Linked DNA regions of Homo sapiens: all the other regions are linked to region 3. The links come from fine-mapping of genetic effects on gene expression. A gene starts in region 3. Each other region holds a variant in brackets. All regions are shown on one strand. Distances are between the middles of the regions. Region 1 overlaps ASTN2 (astrotactin 2). Region 2 overlaps ASTN2 (astrotactin 2). Region 3 holds the start of TRIM32 (tripartite motif containing 32).

Evidence for each region.
Region 1: its variant is fine-mapped to the expression of TRIM32 in monocytes (BLUEPRINT, PIP 0.95).
Region 2: its variant is fine-mapped to the expression of TRIM32 in monocytes (TOPMed, PIP 0.96).

The regions. Positions count from the first base shown.
Region 1 is chr9:116,604,715-116,612,899 of GRCh38, forward strand. All of the region lies in intron 19 of ASTN2 (astrotactin 2), which reads right to left. The region is part of intron 1 of LOC105376240 (a long non-coding RNA gene); the gene reads left to right. Among named protein-coding and RNA genes, the nearest start is that of TRIM32, 78 kb to the right of the region's middle. The variant C/CTA (reference allele first, on the strand shown) is at 4,608.
Region 2 is chr9:116,705,095-116,713,279 of GRCh38, forward strand. The region is part of intron 16 of ASTN2 (astrotactin 2); the gene reads right to left. Among named protein-coding and RNA genes, the nearest start is that of TRIM32, 22 kb to the left of the region's middle. The variant A/C (reference allele first, on the strand shown) is at 3,586.
Region 3 is chr9:116,683,835-116,692,019 of GRCh38, forward strand. TRIM32 (tripartite motif containing 32) reads left to right here and starts at 3,471. Exons shown (of 2, transcript NM_012210.4): 1 at 3,471-3,547. The region is part of intron 16 of ASTN2 (astrotactin 2); the gene reads right to left. RefSeq lists enhancers at 3,138-3,457, 3,898-3,947 and a silencer at 3,528-3,727.

The DNA.
Region 1 (8,185 bases), 79 kb before region 3:
GCTGTCCTTCACCTTGAGTTATTCCTCATACAAATTCACCTCCATAACTGCTCCCTTTTACTAGAGAAAATTTTCAGTCTAAGGTCTGAGATGGGATGGTGTGTGTGTTGGGATGAGGAGTGTCTTTTCAGTTGTAGATTATCCTTAATGATAACAGGGACAGAGAAAGAACAGGGGAACTGAGAGTGGATACAGATGGCCTCTGGACATTCTCCTTTACCTGGATGTAAGTCTAAATCAGCAGCTCATATCAGAGCCAGCTTAGAGAGACAAAGACAAGCAAAGGTCAGCTGAGACATGGGCACAGAGTGACATGGAATAAAAAGAAGAGAGAGAGAGAGACAGAGAGCCACCAAGGGAAGCCGACACACATAAAGGTAGAAAAAGAAGAAAAGAAGGAAGGAGAGAGGAAAGGAAATAATCAGGAAAGGATATAGGAAGAAAGAAACAGAGACAAGAGTTGAGAGTTGGCAGGAAGCAAGAGTGATACTGATCGGGGGGGAGAGGCCCAGTAGGCTCCCAGATGCCAGGGCAGAAAAGGGGCACTGACCAGCTCCAGATGTTGCTGCCTTGTATGAGGAGGTGCCGGGGCTAGTGGATAGGGCCTGCTGCCTCTGTGAGTGCCAACAGAGCCAGATGGCCTTCCAGCCCTGAACTAAACAAGCTGAAGCTGAGAATCCCATGAAGAAAAAGAGAAGTTTCTGATTTTTTTAAAGTTAAAAAAAAAATCCAGCAGGAGAGCAGAAGATGACCAAAGAAAATGCATGGGGGTGTGGTGAGAATATCACCAGACAGAAAAACAGGAGATTATGATGCTAGGTGTGACCTATCCCTTCTTGTCCTCACTCTTCTGATCCTTACACTGAGGGTGGCGGTTTCAATGCTTAAGGTTCTTCTACTTGGAACTTTAGGGATTCACAGAAGCTAGTTTATCAGACAAAGAAGTGGGAAGCCTGATGGGCTACAATCCCCTTTACAAGATCAGAGCTCACTAGTTGCTCACTAGTTGCTGTCAGTGGCTAGATACTCCATTCTGTCAAGCCACACAAGTGTCCTATATCCCTTTATTTCCATCTGCCTCTAGGTCTATTCTCAACAAGAGCAAACTACACTGGAGGTAATATGAACTAGTGAAAAATCTTTGAATGTAGTGGATGAGGGTGTGGGAGTAGATAGGAAAGAAACCAGAGCCCTAGTTCTAGCTCTGGCTGTACCAGTAACTCACCATGTGTGTAAGCTCTGGACAAGTCCATCTCCTCTGAGCCTTTTTCTTCGTAGGTCAAACAGGAGATTTGGATTTATTAAATCTGCCTGTGCCTCGGCCCAGCTTCTTACTCCCACATCTACCCTGCCCAAGAGGCTGAAACCCATGCCAATTGTTCTGATGAGGCCATGAGGGAGAACCAGACGTCTGTTTTTAATACTGATGACAGATTAGCGTGCGGGGCATTCAGCCACCCCCCACAACAAGCCCCATTTCTGCTCAAAACAACTGGAACAGGAGACTACTTATGCTTGGCTTTCCTAACAGCGTCCCGGAACTGACCGAGCGATGGCTTCTCTGAAGGAGACAAAGAGGGCGCCAAACCTAGAGGTGGGGGCAGGGGTAGGAGACAGGGAGGGAGAGTGAGCATTTCAAAAGTTAGTTCAGAAGGGTGTGAAACAGATGGCAGCCATAAAGTGTGTGTGTATGTGTGTGTTTGTGTTCATGTGTGCACATGGGAGAAAGAGAGAGAGAGAGATCTGTGTAAGCACCTATGCCTGTGCACATGCACGCATGAGCTCGTGGATAAATAAATAATTCCAGCACTGGACTTGGCTGCCAGCAAAAATTCAGAGAGATCAAAGGATAAAGCCTATGTTTCCCTATTCTGGCCTCACCTGACCAAATGTGTGAGTAATCCTAACTGTCTAACCAAAACAAGTCTTAAACCTTATTTTGTTTTCTTCCTAACATTTATTCCTCCCTTTAATTTTTTTTTTTTAATTCATGGAAATAGGAAACAACAAGAAAGTATTAGTACCTACTGTGTCTCAAGAACTGTGCTGGAATTAACCCTTAAAAATAGCTTGTGAAAAAGGTGCTGTTTTTCCCATTCCACAGAAAAGGAAACTGAACCCTAGAAAAGATGTTGACTACCCCTAGATCTCTCTCACTGAGAAGTGGTGAAAAATAAATCCAGAAGCCAGGTTTTCCCAAGTCCATATTTTTTCATTAGGCTTGTATCCTCAAAGATAAAACTCAACTGAGTGAACTGAGAAATTTCAATTTAAGCCAAGTTCATTTTCCAGAGGGTTTAGACATGATAAAGGTGACACAGAAGCAAACAGATGAGGTGAATGTTTCAGATGTACCCTCCCAATCATCTACAGCATCAACTGGTCATGACACATTTTTAGAAGGCTTACCATGTACTCAGCTAGGTTGTAAGACTACAGAAGACCCCATAAAACTACACAGTGCTCAAGGAGTTAATGCAGAGTCGAAAAGTTAAGACATGAATGTGTCTAACCATATGCAATTCAGTTCAGTGAACTGAACATCCATGTATGACAGGCACTGTGGGGAAACCCCAACATATAAGGATACAAGATTCATCATCTTGTATCTTTAAAAACAACTGCCCACCCACAAAGTCAGGAATTGGATAATGTGGAGAATGAAAGTCAAGTCCTAAAACAAAGGTTAAAAAATCCCTGTAAAGACAGAAGCATGTATGTCACTGTCTTCAATCTTCTGAATGGCTACAGGAAGAAGGGCCTAGATCTGTGTAAAGTGACCCTAGGCCAGATAACCAAAAATAAACAAATTTTACCTCAATTTTAAAAAGTAACTCTTGGATTAGAGCACTGTTTCCTGGAAAATAAAGAAGAATCTTGGATTTCTATTTCTGGATTAAATGGAATAACAAGGACTGGATTTATTTGCCCTACTGCCCACACCATTAAGAAATTAACACACACACACACACACACACACACACACACACACACACACACACACACACACGCTGAAGCAGGCGGGTCACGAGGTCAGGAGATCGAGACCATCCTGGCTAACACGGTGAAGCCCCGTCTCTATTTAAAATACAAAAAATTAGCCAGGCATGGTGGCACGCACCTGTAGTCCCAGCTACTCGGGAGGCTGAGGCAGGAGAATCGCTTGAATCTGGGAGATGGAGGTTGCAGTGAGCCAAGACAGCACCACTGCATGCCAGCCTGGGCGACAGAGCGAGACTCCGTCTCAAACAAACAAACAAAAAAACATAAAACAAGCTTGTCAGCAACTGGAAATTAGGCAACAAAGTACAGAGATCCTGAAAGATGGAAAACAAATTATGTGAGCCCTAAAATTTCTCTTTGCCTTTAGAGAGTTTTCAAGCCACTGTTCAGGGAGAGGAAATGCCTGACAGATTCCCTGAATTGCCCAGACAGAGTTCTGAGACCAGGGAAACCAAAGTGATTACACTTCGTAAGATAGAGTAATGGAGAGGAGAGAGCTGCATAGAGGAAAAATTGAAGCAATCTGTGGAGGAGTTCCTGTCAACATTCATCAGAGTACTGATTGATGTATGTACATGAGAAATCTCCCAAAACAAAGGGATTAGTGAGAACAATGCCTGAGGCTCATACAAGGGCCAGTAATAGTGCCTGTCTCTACCAGCCATACTGTAAAACCTCAAAACTTATGGGCAACTTGGTAGAGCACACTGAAGGGTCCTCCCTTAGTAGTAGACAATAATTAGCCCTAGACTAAACACTGCTTCAGTTCCATCTAACAAATCTTAAAAGCAAGATCTAAAGGAATCAAATTGTTTCTCTGTGCAAAAGAGTTCAAAATGTTTTTGAACTCTTTTGAACAAAAGAGTTTGAACAAAATATTTTGAACAAAAGAGTTTGAACAAAAGAGTTTGAACAAAATATTTTGAACAAAAGAGTTCAAAAATATTTTTAGTAATACAAAATATCCAGCTTCAAACAAGGCAAGAATCGCAATGTCTGGCATCTAATACGAAATTACCTGGCATGCAAAGAGGCAGGAAAATGCAACCCATAATGAGAAGGAAAAATATCAATCAATTTAAACTGACCCAGAACTGATCCAGTTGTCAGGATTAGCAAACAAGAACATTAAAAGTTACTGTAACTATATCCCATATGTAAAAAAAATTAAGAAATAGAATATATTAACAAGACTCACATTGGACTTCCAAAGGTGAAAATTACAATGTCCAAGACGAAAAATAATGCTGGATGGGATGAACAATAAATTGCACTTCACAGAAGGCATTGAAGACATGCACTAGAAACTATCCAAAATGGAATACAGAGATAACAAATAATTTTTGAAAATGAAAAAAGCATCACTGAGATGAGTAACAACTTAAAGTGACTGAATATACATGTTGTTGGAGGAAAAGAAAAATGGCGGGAGATTTTTTAAATTGACAAAATAATGTCCAAAAATTTTCCAAATTTAATGAAACCATAAATCCACAGATCCAAGAAGCTCAACAAACCCCAAACACAAGAAATAAATGGCTAATAAAGAGAAAAGCTTAGAATCAGTCAGAAAAAAGGATCTCTCTCTCTCTCTCTCTCTCTCT[C/CTA]TCTCTCTATATATATATACACACACACACATATATACATGAATTATATATATGGGTGTATATATATATATATATATATATATATATGAACAAAGATAGGACTGATGGCAGATTTATAATTTGAAGCAATGCAAACAAGAAGACCAAAGTGTAACATATTTAATTACTAGGATAAAAATCTGTCAATTTAAAATTTCATGCACAGCAATAATATCTTACAAAAACAAAATCAGAAAGCATGCATCACTAACTGACAAAATATAAGAAATAGTAAAAGACATCCTTTAGGCTGAAAGAAAATGACACTAGATGAAAACATGAATGATACTCAAAGAAATGAAGAGTACCAAAGTTAGTATCTACATGGGTAAATATATAAAATCATTTATGCTATTACTTAAATACCGAAAAAATAATTAAGAAAAAACAATAAAGATAAATTGTGGAATTTTTAACATATATGTGAATAACACATATGACAAAAACTGCATAAGGCTTGGAAGAGAGGAAGAACAGTATACTATTATAAGATTCCTATGCTATACTTGAAATAGTATTATATCACTTGAAGGTAACTGTGATATGTTAGATATTCATGCTGTAAACCCTGAAGCAAACACTAAATTTTTTTAAAAAAGAGTTATTGCTAATAAAGTCAACAAAGGAGATATAATGGAATCATAAAAACTATCCAAAAGAAGATAGAAAAAGAAGAGAAATAAAAGATGGGATAATATTTAAAAAAAGAAAGATGATAACCTTAAACCTAAACATACAAATATCACATTATTAAGCAGGTCATGGACTCTAAAATAAATAGTTAACAAAGAAACAAACAAATATCACATTAAATATAAATGGTCTAAACACCCCAACTTTACGGTCTAAACACCCCAAAGTTAATAATGCCAGCTTGGATTAAAAAATAAGATCCAACTATATACTATCTTCCAGAAACACACTTTTAATACAAAGCAATGATAGTATAAAAGTAAAGTGATGGCTGCGGACGGTGGCTCACACCTATAATCCCAGCACTTTGTGAGGCTGAGGCGGGTGGATCACCAGAGGTCCGGAGTTTGAGATCAGCCTGGCCAACATGGCGAAACCCCATCTCTACTAAAAATACAAAAATTAGCTGGGGTGGTGGCGGGTGCCTGTAATCTCAGCTACTCAGGAGGCTAAGGCAGGAGAATCGCTTGAATCCAGGAGGCAGAGGTTGTGTTGGCTGAGACTGTGCCATTGCGCTCCAGCCTAGACGACAAAAGCGAAATTCTGCCTCAAAAAACAAAAAAAAAGTAAAGTAATAGGAAATTATAGACTTTAACACTAATCAAAAGAAAGCTGGAGTACTTAGACAAAGTAGATTTCAGAACAGAATGTAACAGAAATATGCAAGGTCATTTCACAATATAAAGGGATCCATTCATCAAGAGAATATGAAAATTCTAAATGTTTATGAACTTAAATAACAATAACTTCAAAATATATAAAATAAAACATGATAAAACTGCAGAAGAAATAAGTCCATAATCAGAGGTTTTAATACCCCTCTCTCAAATATTGATACAAGAAGACAGAAAATCAGAAAGGCTCCAGAAGACTTGAATAACATAATTAACCGATTTTATCTAACAGGCATTTATAAAATACCCATAAATAAGTGGATACACATTATTTTAAAGTGAACACTGAATACAGCAATAGACCATCTAGACCAAAAACTAGTCTCAATAAATTTAAAATGTTTAAAGTCATAAAAACATATTTTCTGACTATAGCGGAATCAAAAATCAACAACAAAAATTTCTGAAAAAACTCCCAAATATTTGAAAACGAAGTGGCATGCCTCTAAATAACTCATAAGTCAAAGAAGAAAACAAAAGTGAAATTGGAAATACTTTGAACTGAATGAAAATGAAAACGCAACATAACACAATCTTTGAGATACTACTAAAGCAGTAGTTAAGAGGGAATGACTACATTACAAGAAAGGTCTCAAATCAATAGCCTCAGCTACCATTTCAAAAATTAAAATGCGGAGAAAACCAAACTCAAAGTAAGCCAAACAAAGAAAATTATAATAAAAATTAGAGGATAAATCAATGAAATAGGAAACAATAAGCAAAAACAGATAAAACCGAAAGTTGATTCTTTGAAAATACAAATAAATGTCATAGCTATCTAGCCAAACTGATCTAGAAAAAAAACAGAGGAGACACACATTACCAATATCAAGATGAGACTAATATCACTATAATCTCAACAGATTTCAAAAGAATAGTAACGGAATGTCATAAACAACTTTTTCCAATAAATTTGATAATTTACATGGAATGAACAAGTTCCTTAAAACACACAAGCTGCCAAAGATCACTCAAGAAGAAACAGATAATCTAAGTAAATCTATATCTATTAAATAACTAAATTAGTAGTTAAAAACCTTCTTGCAAGAAAAGGTCTAAGCCCAGATGCCTTCACTGGTGAATTCTAAAAAATGATTAAGAAAAAAATACTATCAATTTTAACCACAGTGATTCTCTGAGAAGACAGATACACTTCAGAAAACTGAAAAGGAGAAAATATTTTATAATTCATTTTGTGAGACCAGAATGATCCTAATTAAAACAAACAGATAAAACAACCTACACATTCCTGGGATAAATCTCACATAGTAGGTTGTTTTATAATATGAAAATCTATCAATGTGACTTATCATATTAACAAATTTAGAGAGATAAACTATACAATCATTTTAATAGACACAGAAAATTCAACATCTGTTTCCAATGGAAACAAAACAGAGCCTTTGCAGCAGACTAGAAATAGAAGATACCTTCTTCGAGCTAACTATCCTAAATATATATGCACCCAATATAGGAGCACCCAGATTCATAAAGCAAGTCCTTAGAGACTTACAAAGAGACTTAGACTCCCACACAATAATAATGGGAGACTTTAACACCCCACTGTCAACATTAGATAGATCAATGAGACAGAAAGTTAACAAGGATATCCAGGAATTGAACTCAGCTCTGCACCAAGCGGACCTAATAGACATCTACAGAACTATCCACCCCAATCAACAGAATATACATTCTTCTCAGCACCACATCGCAGTTATTCCAAAATTGATCACACAGTGGGAAGTAAAGCACTCCTCAGCAAATGTAAAAGAAAGAAATTATAACAAACTGTCTCTCAGAACACAGTGCAATCAAACTAGAACTCAGGATTAAGAAACTCACTCAAAACCGCTCAACTACATGGAAACTGAACAACTTGCTCCTGAATGACTACTGGGTACATAACGAAATGAAAGCGGAAATAAAGATGTTCTTTGAAACCAATGAGAACAGGACACAACATACCAGAATCTCTGGGACACATTTAAAGCAGTGTGTAGAGGGAGATTTATAGCACTAAATGCCCACAGGAGAAAGCAAGAAAGATCTGAAACTGACACCCTAACATCATAATTAAAAGAACTAGAGAAGCAAGAGCAAACACACAAAAGCTAGCAGAAGGCAAGAAATAACTAAGATGAGAGCAGAACTGAAGGAGATAGAGACAAAAAA
Region 2 (8,185 bases), 21 kb after region 3:
AAGCTTGAGCTTTGTAAGCAGGGAGTCCTGAGTTTAGTCCTGTTTCCCTCAATTATTAGCTCTATGACCATTAAGTCACTTAACCTCTCAGTCTGTTTTCTCACTAGTAATGACTGTTTCACATTTTATTGCAGTATTGTGAAGAGATGATGGATATATAAATGCCATTTAGCAGAATAAAAAGCATTTTTGAAATTACAGTAAACCAAATATATCTGAAATTACCTCATTTTTGTGATATAAAGATGATATGAAACTGGTAAGGGAAAGTCTAACCCCTGCAACCGCAAAGGAAAATTATTTACTAACTCACTGAAATCTTGATTGAAACCATGAAGAGTTTGTGTGAATGTATATAAGTCAAATGCATGTTTTCCCTATACAGATAAAACCAGGATTTTCTTGTGGTGATTTACCCAGTTTACCTGGTTATAACTATAATGGCATTGCATATTGTGAAAGAATATCAAAACCTGAGATTCCATTTATTCACTCACTTATTAAACATATATAAGACATCTACCCTTTATTATTATTAGCAATACTTAATATGAGTAATGAATGCAAAGAAAATCAGTCATGAATTTTGTAGTCAAGTAGCTTGTGGTCTGGCTGCAGAGATAAGGTATGTAAACAAATAATAAAAAATACAAGAGAGTAAGATAAATGGTAACAGGATAGAAATGGAGTGCCAAGTGTTTGAGTAAAGACTGCTGAGAAGATCTGGTTGCTGAAGGGCCTTAAAAGTAAAGGGAATATCGTGAACAAAGGTACAAGATTAGGATGAAGAGTGAGAAGTTGGTGCCAGAAGTTAAAACCACCCCAGAATGAGGGGACATTAAAGAAATTCAAAGGTCTAAAGTGGTTAAGTAATAATTCAAATGGTTCTTTTTTTTTCTGCCCTAGTTTATATGACTTACTGCCAACAGTACCCATGGCTCAGTGAGGCTTCATACTTATAGAGGTGGTAGGGTATGAATCAGAATCTCCTTAGAGTCCTGAGGGTGGAGGGCAAAGGCATAGTTTGAAAATGCATACCCTCTTCGGTATTCTAATATCTCTCCTGATGGGGAATCACTGATTGACATTGTCTCAGAAATACATTTTCTGTCCTTTAAAAATTCTGAAATAATATCAAATTTTTCTCCCCTCAGAAGCCTACGCCAAATAAGTGCTGTAATCTTAGTACAACTTTGTAGTACAGTCAGACTCATTTGTTGATGTCTGACTGGCTGAGTTTTTAAAACCTATTATTCCCCCTTCCGCCCCATATCTGGACATGCCAGTAAGAAAGCTCAAATGCTTCCACCTTTGTGCCTGGTGGAAGTTCAAACCACCTAAGAATCCTCACTGCAGCCCTACCTCCAAGCCACTAGGAAAAGCCAGGCTCCTCTACTTTCCCTGCTCAAGCCATTTCTGGACCTGCTTGAGAACTCGCTGCTCTCTGTAAAAGCCTCGTGTGAGTGATAAACCTTTTCATATCTATTTGGTCCTAATGTAACATCAGTCCTAACACCTAAACCAAGTTTTGGGTAAGGGGTTCAACCTCTCCTCTGTGGGATGACTAAACACTTTATGCAACAAGCAGAGGGTCTAGGAGATGACCACTACCACTGCAGGGCTCTCCTCTTGCTTTAGTTTGCTAACTGACTCTTGCTGGCTAGAATTTTTTTTTTTTTTTTTTTTTTTTTGTCACTGCTGGCAAGCTCATGCTTTGTGCTGTGCTGCTTTGTACTGCGTTCACTGAGCCTTACCAAGCTTCTGTTATAGATGTGCTCAGCTAAGTTGGAATTTTTGATAATTGGCATTTAAGAACAAGAATAAAGTGGCATTTAAGAACAAGATTAAAGTGGCCCTGGGTCATGTGTCTTGGTCGAGACTTACCTGTGTCTCTGAATTGTGTTTCTGGATCCCAGTGTCAGCTGTGACTGTCACGAGGCTCAGAGGAATGACTCTTACCCTGTGACTTTTGGTTGTTTATCTCAACCAGGTGTTGCCCTCATTGTATGGCGTACTCAAAAGAAACAGTCATACCCTATGCAATATGCAGGCTGGTTGGTAGTCACTCATGGACGAAGACCATGTTGAATGCTATGGTGCACACTCCCAAAAGCAGATGGTTTACTAGGACTTTACAAAATGCCTTTCTTCCTACTTCTGCCTATGCCCTATGCCACTATGCCCCCTGACCAAAAAAAAAAAAAAAAAAAAAAAAAAATTCCTGATCCTAAGGGTTATAGGGAAAAGCATCCATGCTATAGCCAAGGAGTTCTTTCAAAGCCAACTTAAGCACTGGGTCCTCAAACCCTATAAAGCAACTGTTGGCACGGGAGAGAACCTAATCCTGATTATATGTATTTGCAACTCTGGAGGAAGAATCTTACACATATGAGCAGGATCGAGAGGACCTTCCCTCCTCCCCAACCCCTCCCCACACCACCACCAAATGATATACGGTAGCCACCAAAAGGAAAATAAAATAAACTTGGATACTGGGGGAAAGAAACAAAAAACTAAAACAGAGGTTCACAATTTGACCCAATTGGAAATCCAAAATTAAAGAATTTTTGCAACAACAACAAAACAAGATAAAAGGTTACTATTTGGCTTTTGTACCTCTACAACCTAGGTTCCGAATTAACTTTTAACATTTGCTGAAATGCACCAGTTGTCAACCCTTCATAGCCTTAATATTGGGCTTCAAATTATACCTGGAATTCCCCTAAATTTAAACAAAGTACCCCTATAATCTTAGGGTAGTTAACTGAGGATATTTTAGGACATGTTAGGAAGACAAATAGATATGCCTCATCTTAATCAGAACTATTGCCCTGCCTAAATTCCCCCATAGCCATAGCACCCATTAACTTAAAATATCCCATAGTGGGCATGGATGCTCTAACCCAATGAGTAATAAATTAAAATTGAATTAAGTCTTTGGCACTTACAAATCAGCTTGCCAAAATGGGACGGCATGGACCTTCCCCTCCTCCGTTAGTTAAAATAGTTAATATGGCCCAATTTAAATTAAAACAGAGTCTTTGAGGTTTGAAACCCATATACCAGACCTATTTGGAGAAGAGTGACTATCCCCACTGCTTCACCATTAATGGCCCAATGTAGCCTGTTCAGAAACCTAGAAAGAATGAATGGCATCTCACAGTAGATTATTGCCATGTTAATGCTGAAGTTCTATCCAATAAGGCTCCCATATCAAATATTATCAAAATTACTAACTTTAATCAACAACTGGTAAATACTTTTAATTCATAGATTTGGCTAATATTTTAGCAGCGACTCAGCCACAATTTGCCTTCACCATCAAAGGGATGCAGTATCCTTTTACTCAGCTACTCATGGGATAACAACAGCCAGGTCTTCACACAGCCTGCAGACAAGATCTTGACCACATTTAACTTTCTTCAGGAGCACAGTAAACACTGATCATACTGATCACATCATCCTCCAAGAAGGTTCATTTGGCACACTCACTGAGGACACATATAGTCATAATCATAAAAGAGCTCACGAAAAAGGGATGGACCACTACCCCACACAAATTACCAAGTCCTTCCACCTTGGATA[A/C]ATTCCTGAAAGCTATTTAGCTGAGGGCCATTCTATCCCTGACACTTGCCAGAAACAGCATTCGCAATTTTTTTAAAAGCCCAATATGTTTTAGTCTATTTTGAGTTCTGGAGACAGCATATTTCTCATTTACAAATTTTACTTAAACCCGTTTATACTATTACTTAAGCTCACTTATGAATTATAATACAGGCACTGCAATTAGTGACCCCTGAGAGTCCTTTACTTAAAGGCTTTAGCAACCTCCTCCCATGATTCCTGAAGTCTCTGGCCCACACTTGATGGCCCTAAGTTGCCCACAGGCATCTTGTGCCATAAACTGTCCCTTCAGCCCCATGCTATATGCCATTAGAGTGCAATTGCTGGCTGCATATTGGACTCTCCTGGAAACAGGCTGGTTGTCACCGGCCCTCAGCCTGTGACTCTCCATACCAGCTGCCCATTATCCCTTGGGTCTTGAAATCACACCCTAAAAGTTCAACATAGCCACTGAGGTTTCCTTGCTGTAGCATAGAGCCAAACCTGGCATATTTCACCTATAGGAAAAAGTCTCCCACCACCACCCTCAGCCCCTTGCTAAATACCATGGTGCTGGTAAAAGTCATCCCCCTTCCCAGACCCTTTGGATATCTGTGGAAGCCCTTGCAATCAACAGAGTGAAGAGTAAAGGGAGTTTCTCCACTTTATAGATGGTATCACTACCATTGTATGTGATGGAGCTTGCTGGAAAGTTCCTGATTTTTAGCCCATAACTGGGACATCCCTGATAATGAAACAGGACCCAAGTCAGCACAACTGGCCAAACTTTATGCGGTCCTTTTAGCACTGAATACCCTGACCAACATCTGCACAGTTCTATAGACTGTTGAACCACTGCCAGTGATTTGCTCATCTGCTCCAGCCAATAGCAGCAAAAACAGTTTTCTATCCAAGGTTGCCTCTTTGGGTTAAATAACTCTGTGACTCTCTTGCCTCATATATATATACTTATACTCAAAGTATAAGTCAAGGTCATTTCTACTCACAATAAATCCACAATAAAAGGCCTCATTAACACTTTAACCCCTTCAGTAGTCTAGAAATTATTGATAGTGACTAAGGCATTCATTTCACATCTCAAAATACATAATATTGGGCTCTTGTACAAGGCATTTAATGGAACTTTCACCTCCCTTACCAGCCTCAGGCTGCAGGCCTCATAGAAAGCCATAATGGTTTATTTTACCTAAACAAGTTCAAGTTCAATTAAATGAAACATGCCACATTTCAGTCATCAGTCAAATATCAGGGATGAATCGTAATAAAGATTCTGACTCCATTTTTGGTACTTGACTGCTAACAACTTTCAAATTCTTCTACTTACTCCCTCTTCTTCAGCTTCACATCTGGGAAAACTGATAGGGAAGCCTAGGTAGGCCTACCTTTGGTGCCAGAGGGAAGCTCAATCCATGCAAGCCCCAGATAATATATGAGAACCTCCCCAACCTTACCCTACACCCCTCACCTCCCAATCCAAGCCAGTCTCCTTTCCCTGCTTTCTCAAACCATGTTTGGACCTGTTTGGAAGCTCCCTCTGCTCTCCCTAGAAAGCTTCATTATGTGAGTGATACATCTTTTCATATCTTCTTGGTGTGTGTGTGTGGTATCATCAGCCTCAACATCTGAAGCAAATGTTGGGTGGGGGTACATCCCACTACTTCTGAGTGACAACAGATGTTTAGAGTTAAATATTGAAAGAAATTTCATATTACGATAAATGACAATTTCAGACCAGGTGCAGTGAGCTCACGCCTGTAATCACAGCATTTTGGGAGGCCAAGGAGGGGGGAATCACCTGAGGTCGGGGGTTTGAGACCAGCCTGACCAACATGGAGAAACCCTGTCTCTACTAAAAATACAAAATTAGCAAGGCATGGTGGCGCATGCCTGTAATCCCAGCTACTCGGGGAAGTCTGAGGGAGGAGAATCACTCGAGCCCAGGAGGTGGAGGTTGCGGTGAGCTGAGATCACACCATTGCACTCCAGCCTGGGCAACAAGAGTGAAACTCCGTCTCAAAAAAAAAAAAAAAAAAAAAAAAGAAGAGAAAAAAGAAAGAAAATTTTGTAAGTTCTGAGCAACCACATGAATAAAGCCATGTGTTTTGTGAAATGACGTTTAATATTTAAACTTAAAACTAGTAATAAATCTCTAAATCTCTCAGACCCCAAGATATGAAACTTGTTTGACACATTTAATGATTCTGTAAAAGTGTAAGAAATGAAGTTAAATGAAGAATGTCATGGCCTGAAAGGATGGAAAGGCATTAGACATGCATATTACCTTGCCTGATCCAAGACTCAGGGACTGGATATAGAAGAATGAAACTTCCATTAATTGATACACTGGAAGAAAGGCCACATACAAATAGGCAAATATACCGTAGACCCTGCATAGAAGGCTAATTAGCTAAATGTAAGGTGCAAATGCTCAAGCAACAACCCTGAAAGTGTGTATTCCTCCTTTCTGCTCTGGCGACTATGCCTATTTATTCTCCTCAATGAAATGGGCATATTAACTCCAGCCTATTTAATATGTACTACAACTACTCTTCAATGCCCCATAACATTTTACACAAGTAAAAGCTGCCTAAAAATGAGCAGCATAGTCAGCCTCTCTGAATGAAATAAAATGTCTCTAAATAAAATGTCAGAAATAATACAAGGTATGGCAGCAGGAAAGTAGCTTAAGAAAACAAATTGCAAAAGGGAACATTTATTTTTCTTCTGGACGATACCATCTTTTTCTATGACTTCAATCATGTATGCAGCTACATACCAAACTGTATTTTTCATGTCTTACCTTCTTTTTGATCACCAGATTGGTGTATACCCAGCTGCCCATTTTATATTGCCAGTTGTATATACCTTAGGAATCTTAGACTCAGTATATTCAAAACTGAACTTGGCTCTACCATACCTGCTGCTCCTTTTTTATTTCACCTAAGGAACTCCAGCAGTCACTCAGGCCCTTAAGTCAGAAAGCTTGGCACCATGTCTAATCATTTTCCTCACCTTTCACCTTCTACTGTCCCATCATGAAGTTCTCATCATTCTAGCCACTTAATATTTTTCACATACATTAATTTTTTTTCTGAATCCTCATGGCTGCTAAATTTTAAGCTATTATTTTTCTCCTTGAAACACTACTACAACTCCCTAACTGATCCTCCTAACTCTAATCTAGCATCTCACATATACTTCCTCCCATCCCAAGTCAAGCCCTATCCCACACTAGCCAGAGTCAAATTCTAAAATGCAAATGCTAATGATAATATACAAAACCTTTAAATGACCTTTAAGTGCTCCTAGCAAAGGTACAACTTTCTTAACATGGTCTATACATCCCAGTGGGATTTGATTCCTGTCCATCTATCTTTCTAGGTTTATCTTACCACCACTTCCATCCCCTCTAGAGCTTTGCTCCATCCACAATTTCTTTTTTCTTATCTCAGGGACATTTTTGTACATGCTTTTCTTGCATCTTGGAACATTTACCTTCTCCATACCCACCTGTGTTGGCCTAAATCTTACCTTCTTCAAGTGTTCTGGAATGCCCTTTTGGATCCACCTTAACTGTTTTGAGCCAGGTGTTCATGCCACACTTTATATTTCTCCCTCTAGCATTTACATATTTCATGGTGATTTTTCTCATTAAATATCTTTTTCCAAGACTAAAATGAGCTCTCTGAAGGCAAGGCAATATTTAATTTACTGCTGCATCCATAGCATCTAGCACAGTACCTGAAACATAGTAGGCACTATAATTGTTGCTGAATAAAACCAGAGGTCAGCTTAGCTCATATGTTGACATATGTGAGCACTCTGGGTCACAATTAGCATCAGCTGGTTATGCCACCTCCTGCTTCTCCTAGTACCTGCATCCCTGAATCATTAAGTCTAGCTGCAATAGAAAGTGGGGTATGGTTGAAAGGTGGGAGGAGTGGTTCCCTCTGATTTGCTTTTCCTTAGAGAATCTTCTCAACTGTAAAATAATTGAAAGTTGCGTTCCTTTCTAGACTCAACCCGAACTTTGTTTTGGTGCAATGTCACCATTGGAAGAGAAGGCTCAAAAATATACCTTTCATTGTGTGTTATATGAAATATATCTCAATAAAGCTGTTACGAACGTAAAAATGTGACCTTGAGCAAGTGAGTTTCCACGTTAGGAAATGGAGATAATAAATGCCCAGCATACCTCCTGGCATGTAATGAATTCTCAGTACATGTCATGTGGACTTGGGAGTCAGACAGTCCTGAGATGGAATCCTGTCTCTGCCTATTAGCAGCCATGTGACCTTTGGACACATGGCCTTTTGAATTGCCACTCAACACACTTCCTTGGATGGGGGAAGAAAGAGAGAGTACTAATCCTGTTTGAGTCCTAATATTATTAACTAATGGTTCTCTTTGGGCAATTATTTTTCTTCTCCATGGCACTCCATTTCCACCATCTATATTTGTTAAATTAAGGATCTTTCTAGTTGTAAACTTCAATGATTCTGGTGCCCCATACCCCGGAGACTTATTGAATCAAGATCTCCAAAAGGAGCCTTCTTTCTGG
Region 3 (8,185 bases):
TTTTGTCTTGTAACAGGACACAACTGGAGAAATTGATTATTTTACCAAGGCTTTTACTGGAATGGCATGCTTCCTTCAAAGAATCAAAATTAATGTATAGAGCCAATTAAAGCCCCCTGGGGAATCTAACCTCAGACCTTGTCTATAGTCCCTGTACAAGGTTCTGTCATACAGTCCCTGTACAAGGTTCCTGACCTGTGGTAAGTAAAGAATGTCACTTTCTAACAGGCCCAGGAACCCCAAGTTATTTTGGGACCTTGAGAAGAGAGGAATTTACCCAACTCATAGGTATTTGAGGATACAAACCCATGGCTGAGCTTGGCTTTTAAAAACTCTTATCTGAGATTCCTCATGGAACAGAGTTCCATCAAAGCTAATTTAAACAAAAAAGACCCTAAGTGAAAAATAATTATTCTTGCTGCACTTTATGCAAATAATCAGGCCAAGTATAGTAAGACTAAAGTACATTTCTGTAAACAAATCAGTTCTATCATGATTTGTTTTTAATAAAAATGGGGTCTGGAGAGAGAGAAATTATGCTTCAAGAGGAAACCTATTGTTAGCTGTTGTTAGCTGTCCTTGAGTTTTTTCTACAATTTTGACTAAATCCTAAATTATTTGTGGGTTGGAAGTCGCCAGACTAATGCTTTCAAATCTTTGCTTTTAAAATTGAGTATTGTACTCCTCATCCTAGGACTCATTATTTACCTTATAGTAGGCTGTTCACCTAAATACTGTACTAAAACTATAGATGAGAGTACTAATGTTTTTGCCATGCAAGCCTTAGAAGCCCAGCCAGACCTGCATGAGTCGCTCAGACACTTGAAAGTGGTCCCACTCTTCTCACCTTGGGGTTGACTCCCATTCCCACTACGTCCCCTGTCAGCAAGAAGAACCCAGAGCAATCGACAGCCTTTTCCCATCTTCATACCCTACACTTTAAGATTAAGGTGTTACAAAACCCAAAGTGATGGACTGAAACTGCCTTTGCAAAATTATGATTGAGACAGTAAAAGAGATCTAACTTAACTGACTCCATCTTGCTTCTAACTTCCAAGCTGTCCTTGTTCATTCCTGGGCATAGGCTGAACTAACTTTGGGAGAAATTTAGTCTGTAGTTCATAGTTTAAACAAAGACAGTAACAACCCTATCCCAAAGCAGACCTCCTTGCCTGGGTACTAGATTGCCTTTGTAGGACTAACATTAGCCACAAGATTAGAAATTGCGGTTTAGGAGTCATGCAGCTGGAGGTTACAAGATGCTGAGCCTCCCTAAAATGCTTCTGAGATCAGTGCTTGAGATATTTTGCAGACCCTGCACTTGATGGATCAGCTGGCACCACCCAGATCAATAAACTCACTCATCTGATCTTGTGGCCCCCCCACTCAGGAACTGACTCACTGCAAGGAGACAGCTTCGACTCCCTATGATTTCATCCCTGACCAACAGCGCTCCTGGCTCACTGGCTTCCCCCAACCCACCAAGTTATCCTTAAAATCTCTGTTCCCCAAATGCTCAGGGAGATGACTTGAGTAATCATAAAACTCCAGTCTCCCGCACAGCTGACTCTGCGTGAATTACTCTTTAACTATTGCAATTCCCCTGTCTTGATGAATCAGCTCTGTCTAGGCAGTGGGCAAGGTAAACTCCTCAGGTGGTTCCACTGATATAGGTGATTTAAGTGTTAAATAAAAATCTGTTACATTAAAATGCTGAATAAAGAGTGTTTAAAGCACTCCACAAAGATTATTTTTTAAATGCCTCTGTGTAAGAGGAATTCTAATATTGTGCCAGGATATGTCAAGCTATAAGATAAAAATTGAGTGCATTTCCTAGAATGCTTATTCTACTCTAAGATTTTGTGAGAGGTATAATAATTCATTTAACTGGTAATAAACATTAAAGAAGAGTCAAACACTGATTTTTGTTTTAAGGGAGAAGAGAGATTTTTTTTTTTCAAGACACTTGCTTGAGCTAGATCCCCAGGAGTATTTTTAACACTCCTCTGTAATTAGGGAAACATCAGTATGTCTGTATTGATACATATACACACATATATAATATGTATATATGTAAGACTATGAACAGTCCTAAATTTATACTTTGGGCTGATAACTGTGGTTTTCAGGAAAAAAAAAAATTTTAAACGGGTGCAAAGTCTCCCCAACTGGTCTAAGTGAGAAATCATTTGGCATTACCTCTCCCTTATCCCCTACCTGCTAATTACAATTTTTCAAATATAGTTATCATTAAGTGCAAACTACCATAATCTTGGCTTATCTTCATGGCAAACTTCAATTAGAAATTTAGAAAATGGGGAGAAAGAGTAAACAAGGTTAAGAGAGTGGGTTCTCAGATAGAATTGGGTACAAATTTGGGCTCCAACACTTAGGTATATGTGGCCTTGTGTAACCACCTAGGTTACACAACAGGTGTAGGTTAACCATCAGCTGCCTTATCTCATTAGGTCCTTATGAGGATTTAGTGAGCTATGCACCTGAAGTCCTCAGCTGTAGCCAGACAGCAAGTGTTCAAAGATGTTAGTCATTGTTTTTGTTTATTGTTTTATCATTGTGCAGGGTCACATAGCTAAGGGGAATTTCAAATCCAAGTCCATCCTACTTCAAACTCCTTTGTGCTCCTAAGCTGTACAGTATAGTCACCTTGGAGAGTAGGTGATTGGCCCCAAACTACTTCAGGGACTGCAGGTCGTGGCCAGCCAGTCCTGTATCAGACCTCGTCCTTGCCAGATGCCTAGTGCCCCAGATTCCCTCAAATCTCAGGCCAGATCACCTCCCACCTGGTAAGATTCCTCCACCTTCACCCGAGCAAAACTACACTTGGTTTGGGTTCCCGGGTACCTTCAGTCTGCAGGGACAGGGGCTGCAGAGTGTACTCCCCAAGTCTGCCTCTGCTGTCGGCCTCCCAGCTGAGTAGGCAAAACATTCCTTTACAGAGCAATGTGTTCATGGATAAACTTGTCTCTAGTGCAGCTCTCTGTCAGAGCACAGAACATGAGGCCAAAGCACTGCCCTTCCTAGGGAGTCCCGGTTCTCGACTTCCCCAGAATGGAAGTTTGATTTTTCCGTTGGCCCATTTCTCAGATGGAAAAACAGATTCAGTAAGGTGCCAACGCTTTGCTGAGGACTACCCTGGAGGCTACCGTTTTGTGAAGGGGTAGACATTGAGACTGGAGTCAGATACGCATTCTGGCTTATCTCCTGACTTACTGAGTGAACTTGAGCAGGTCCCTTTCGCCCATGGGCGTCGGTTTCTTCATCTGCACCAAGGAGACGGAAAACTGGATTACGTGTCGCTAAGGCCCCGGGTTCTCAGAGGAAAGCTCACCCCTGCAGGGCCGCCTTGCCCCGCGCGCTTGGGGCCAGCTGCACGACAAGCCCCAGCATGCTGGGGAGGCGGGGCTCAGTGACGGACAGGGAGCTCTGCGAATTGGCGCCCGGCAAGGGGTGCTCAACGGCGCGTGCGCAGAGGGAGGCAGGCGGGTGGGCTGCCGGCGGTGGACTCGTCGGAGCCGCGGGCGGTCAGGTAGGGGGCGGGAAGGAGGGTTGGGGACTGGGGACCGCGGCCGGAGTCGTGGGCCGTGGCTCAGCGGCCAGGCGGGGGAACGTGCCGGCGTGCAGCGGCCGCGCCCGAATGGCAGGGTGTGGGGACCGGATCTGGGGGGGGCAGGACTAGGGTGGGGGTGGGGCTGCGAGGGGCAGGCTCGGGAGGGATTCGTGGGGCTGAGGAGATCCGAGGAGATGCAGCTGGGGGAGGGGAGCGAGGGGCTCTGAAGAGATTTGCGGTTGCAGCATCTCGGGAGGTATGAGGTAATGTCGGGGCCCTGAGGAGGAACGGGGTGTAGCATGTGGGAGATGGGAGGGAATCAGGGCCCTGGAGGGACCTGGGTGCAGAATTTCAGAAATATGAAGGAACTGGGGGGCCCCGATGAGATTTGAGGAAATCTGGGGGCGCTAGGCATCTGGCAAGGACAGGGTCTGAGATGATAGGAGCAAGGTCTAGGGCGATCCTAAGTGCTATTGAGAAAGGGTTTTCGGAGTGGGCTGAGGGTGAGATTGAGGGGGTGGGGTGAGTTCTTGAGGGACTCTATCTTGTTAGCAGAAAGAAGGGAGCTGGCTGAGGTGTGAAGGCAGCACATGACATTCAGTGCATAAGAGGAAGGAGCAGGGTATGAGGGCAGCACAGTGCCCGATGGAATGCAGGAGATGGGGGCTCAGATTGAGGGAGAGCAGAAATCTGGGGTGAGGAATTGGGGCGTTGAACTGAGGTGCGGGGCTGAGTGTGGCAGAGATTTGGAAATAGGGATTAAACGATCTGAGTCCGAGGGATTTGGGGCATATGAGTGAGGAATTGACGAGGGTTGCAATATACAGCCCCAAAGATTGGAATTTGGAATTGTAAGAGGGTTGGGGACAGGGTTTGGAGAGGATTGAATCGTGGGGTGGAGATGTCCTAACTGGGCTATAAAATCAAAGGACCCTGAGTAGATTTGTGGATTGGTGTCTTGGGCTGCTAAAGAGATTTTCCTTAAATCGCTGCATGGGAGACAGAGGGAGTTCAGGGGACCCAAGGACCTAAAAGTAATGTATGAAACTGGATGAGTATATGAAGATGAGCAGAGTTCAGGTGCTGAGGAACAAAGTGATAAATCTTCAGTTCAGATAATCCTGAAGGAGTGTGGTAATCCCTGTGAAGGGCAGAATCTTCTTCATTTATTAAACAAAGATCCGTTATCATGAGGCAGGTATGGTATTGCCACTAACTCCATTCTGACCACCGGTCCCCCGGCCCACTGAAAGTGGTAGGCTTTGGGGAAGAAGAAGTGGAACTATTCAAGGTCATCTGCCTAAGCCCTTTTTCCCTGTACCCCCAAGCTACGATAGCAGATAGAAAGTGAGACCTCCAGGGGAATGAGTGGAATAATTTATCCTATATAAGATCCATTACAGCTTGAAGGGGCAGTGGCTCTGTGAGTGAGGTGTTTGGGCTCGGAGACAGACAAAACAACAACAACAACCACCAGAAAAAAAAAAGGGAACCCTTAGGTATTGAGCATTTAGTCCTGTGCTAGACTGTAAAGCAGTGGTTCTTAACCAAGTCTGGCTTTGTCTCCTAGGAGACATTAGGCAATGTCTGGAGATGTTTTTTGGTTGTCACAGGGTGGGGGATACTACTGGCCTCAAGTGGGTAGATTAAACATTAAACATAATGTTTTATGTTAAACATTTGACAATGTGTGGGATACGCCCTTCCCCCCCGCAGTAAGGAATTATCCTGCCTAAAATGTCAGTAATGCCAAAGTTGAGGCACTCTGACCTAGAGTCAGATACCCTGGGTTCAAGTCCTAGCTCTATCTCTTCCTGACTTTAAGTCCTAGCTCTATCTCTTCCTGACTTTGTGGCCTTGAATGAGTTACTTAACCACCCAGTGCCTTGGCTCTTCATCTGTAAAATGGGGTTATGATAACAAGACCAATGTCACAGAATTGTTGTGAGGATTTAGTGAAGTAAACTAGCATGCCTAGGATCTGGCACATAGTAAGTTCTCAAAATCTAGTAATTTTTAGTCTTGTATCTACTTCTTTACTCAGTTTTCATGACAGTCCTTCTAAGTAGGCTCTACTGTATTCAGTTTTACACATGAGGAAACTAAGGCTTAGGAAGTGACTTGCCTAAGTTTCCATAGCTAGGAATGACACAGTTAAGCTCATACCCAGATCTCTGTAACTCCGTATATTCCCGCTTTCCTTGCTTCTTCCTTGCTAGGGCCTGCTTAGTCTTATTTTCTCAGCCCATTCCCCTCTAATGAAAAAGAGGATTGCCAGTGAGTATCACTGACTATCAGATTGAACTCTAAAGTTGGGGGGTAAATCTCTCTGATTAGGTAGGGAGGAGCCCTGGACTTTGTTCTTGGTTTGCCCTTAGACCAAGACCTGGGGCTAGATAAGGAGAGGAGCCTGAGGTTATCAGGCAGGATGAGGTGCAACGGACTATAGGGTGAGGTATGGAGGCCATTGGCTTGAAAAAACACCTCATAGCAGGGACTGAGGCTGAAGGCAGTCATACTCTGAAGGAGAGTAACTACTGTTCTGTATGGTCTCTTTTGGTCTGCTTTTCCCTGGAACAGAATTTGGCTCTATCATTTCCAGGACTAGCTACAGGGTTGCTGAAGCCAGTTCAGAAACAAAGCTAGACTGTGTCTGACAGCAAGACTTAGCTGGAATATCTGTGCACATCCCTAAAAGAAAATATGTCATGGGAATTAAATCAGCCCTGTCTAAACTCCTTACTCTAATTTCCTATGTTACCTTGTCAGTAGCTACGGCACTTGTCCTGTCAGCCTCAATCTATTAAAAATGCAAATGATTATAATTTGTTGAGTGCTTATTATGTGCATTATCTTAGTGAATTCAATCCTGCTAACAGTCTAGGTTTTATTCCTTGTTTACAGATAAGAAAAATAACAGGTTAAATGACTTACCCAGGGCTACAGAGCAAGTAGCTAGGTTGGGATACAAACCCAGTTCTGTCTTACACCTATGTTACATTATAGTAGTTTTATTAGAAGCCTTTTCCAACCCTTCAGAGCCCCTATGTTTATGTCTGGAGAATAGTTGGAAGCCAGAAGTTTATAAGGCCCTTAAAGTAGATCATTGTCTATGCACACTGATGTGTAACCTTTGTGACATTCCCTCCATCTTGTCTTTCTGGTAAAACAATCAAATTTAAAAATCATTTCTAGGTGCCCTTACCAACCTCTCAGCCAGACTTTGTCTAAAGCTAGGGAACTATGAAACATCCTTTAAGTTAGTAATTTTATGGCTGGGAGTTGATACTGGGATTTGAATCCTTGCTCTATTACTTATTGGTTTTGAGACCTTGGACAGGCTACTTTCTCTGAGCATTGGTTTCCTTATTTTTGAAGAGGAATCACACTTACTTTACATGGTTATTATGAGACTATGAGAACATATAAAAAAATGCCTGACAATAAATAGTAGTTGCTTTAAGAGTGTTAGCAATTATGAGAGGAAGGCAGTGCTGGAAGAGAACTAAGTGTTGCTTTGTCATATTTATTTATTTATACAGGGTCTTGCTGTGTCACCCAGGCTGGAGTGCAGTGGTGCAATCACAGTTCACTGCAGCCTCAACCTCCTAGGCTCAAGTGATCCTCCCATCTCAGCCTCCCAAGTAGCTGGGACCACAAGTGCATGCCACCACACCTGATTATCTTTTAAATTTATTGTAGAGATGGTGTTTCACTCTGTTGCTCAGGCTCTTTGCCAGATTTTGATAACCCTAAGTAGTCTCTGCTAGTCTCCCCAAAATTCTCATCCCATTTTGTATATTTCCTAGGATCTCCTTGATCCTTTAATCATAATCTCATGATTAAATGAACAGATGTTATATGCAGAGAAAGGAATTGAAAGAGAGAGAGGGTTGAGGTTAGTTGGAGGTCCCTGAGAAGGGGCTATTGATTTTTCCTTTGTCTTATATTCCTTGAGTCATACTGGCAGCGTAGGTACTACTCAAATGTTTGTGAAAGATGCAAGGGAGTCTTTCTAGGTCCTGCAGTTTTAGAGGAAGACAGAGACAACAGGCAAGCATGTTTTCCAGGAAACCCTATTATTCATTTAGCCTGCCCTTGACATAGTTTAGCTATGTTTAACTTAGTAATTTAGCTAAAGTTTTCTTTCTCTACAAACATACTTCCTTCTGGATCGTTTTGTTTGCCCCAGACTGGTACAACTTCAGGAGCATGCCTGTGTTTCCCTATAAGCCCCTACTTGTTGAGTTTATCTTAGTTGTCTGCAGGTGCCTTAAATGCCCTGAGTAATCTAAACTTCATCAGAATCCTCTCCCACACACAGGAGTGGATGTCAGGTGATGACCTCACTGAATTCGTTAAAGTCAGTCCTGCTAACGAGTGGCCTTTGGTGGCACAGTGATAGTTTTGCACTTGATTAGCATTCTGTTAGAATGCATGAGGAATAAAGTTTAGAAAGCTGACATAAAAGGAAATGAGATAAACCTTGCAAAAAACCCAGTCAAACCAGGGGAGCGTGTCAATAGTAGGATGGACCTTTATGTCTTGTGAAAGGAAATGCAATATTTTACATGTTGTCTAGTTTTTAGGGGAAAGCACTGTTTATGTCTGGTTTTT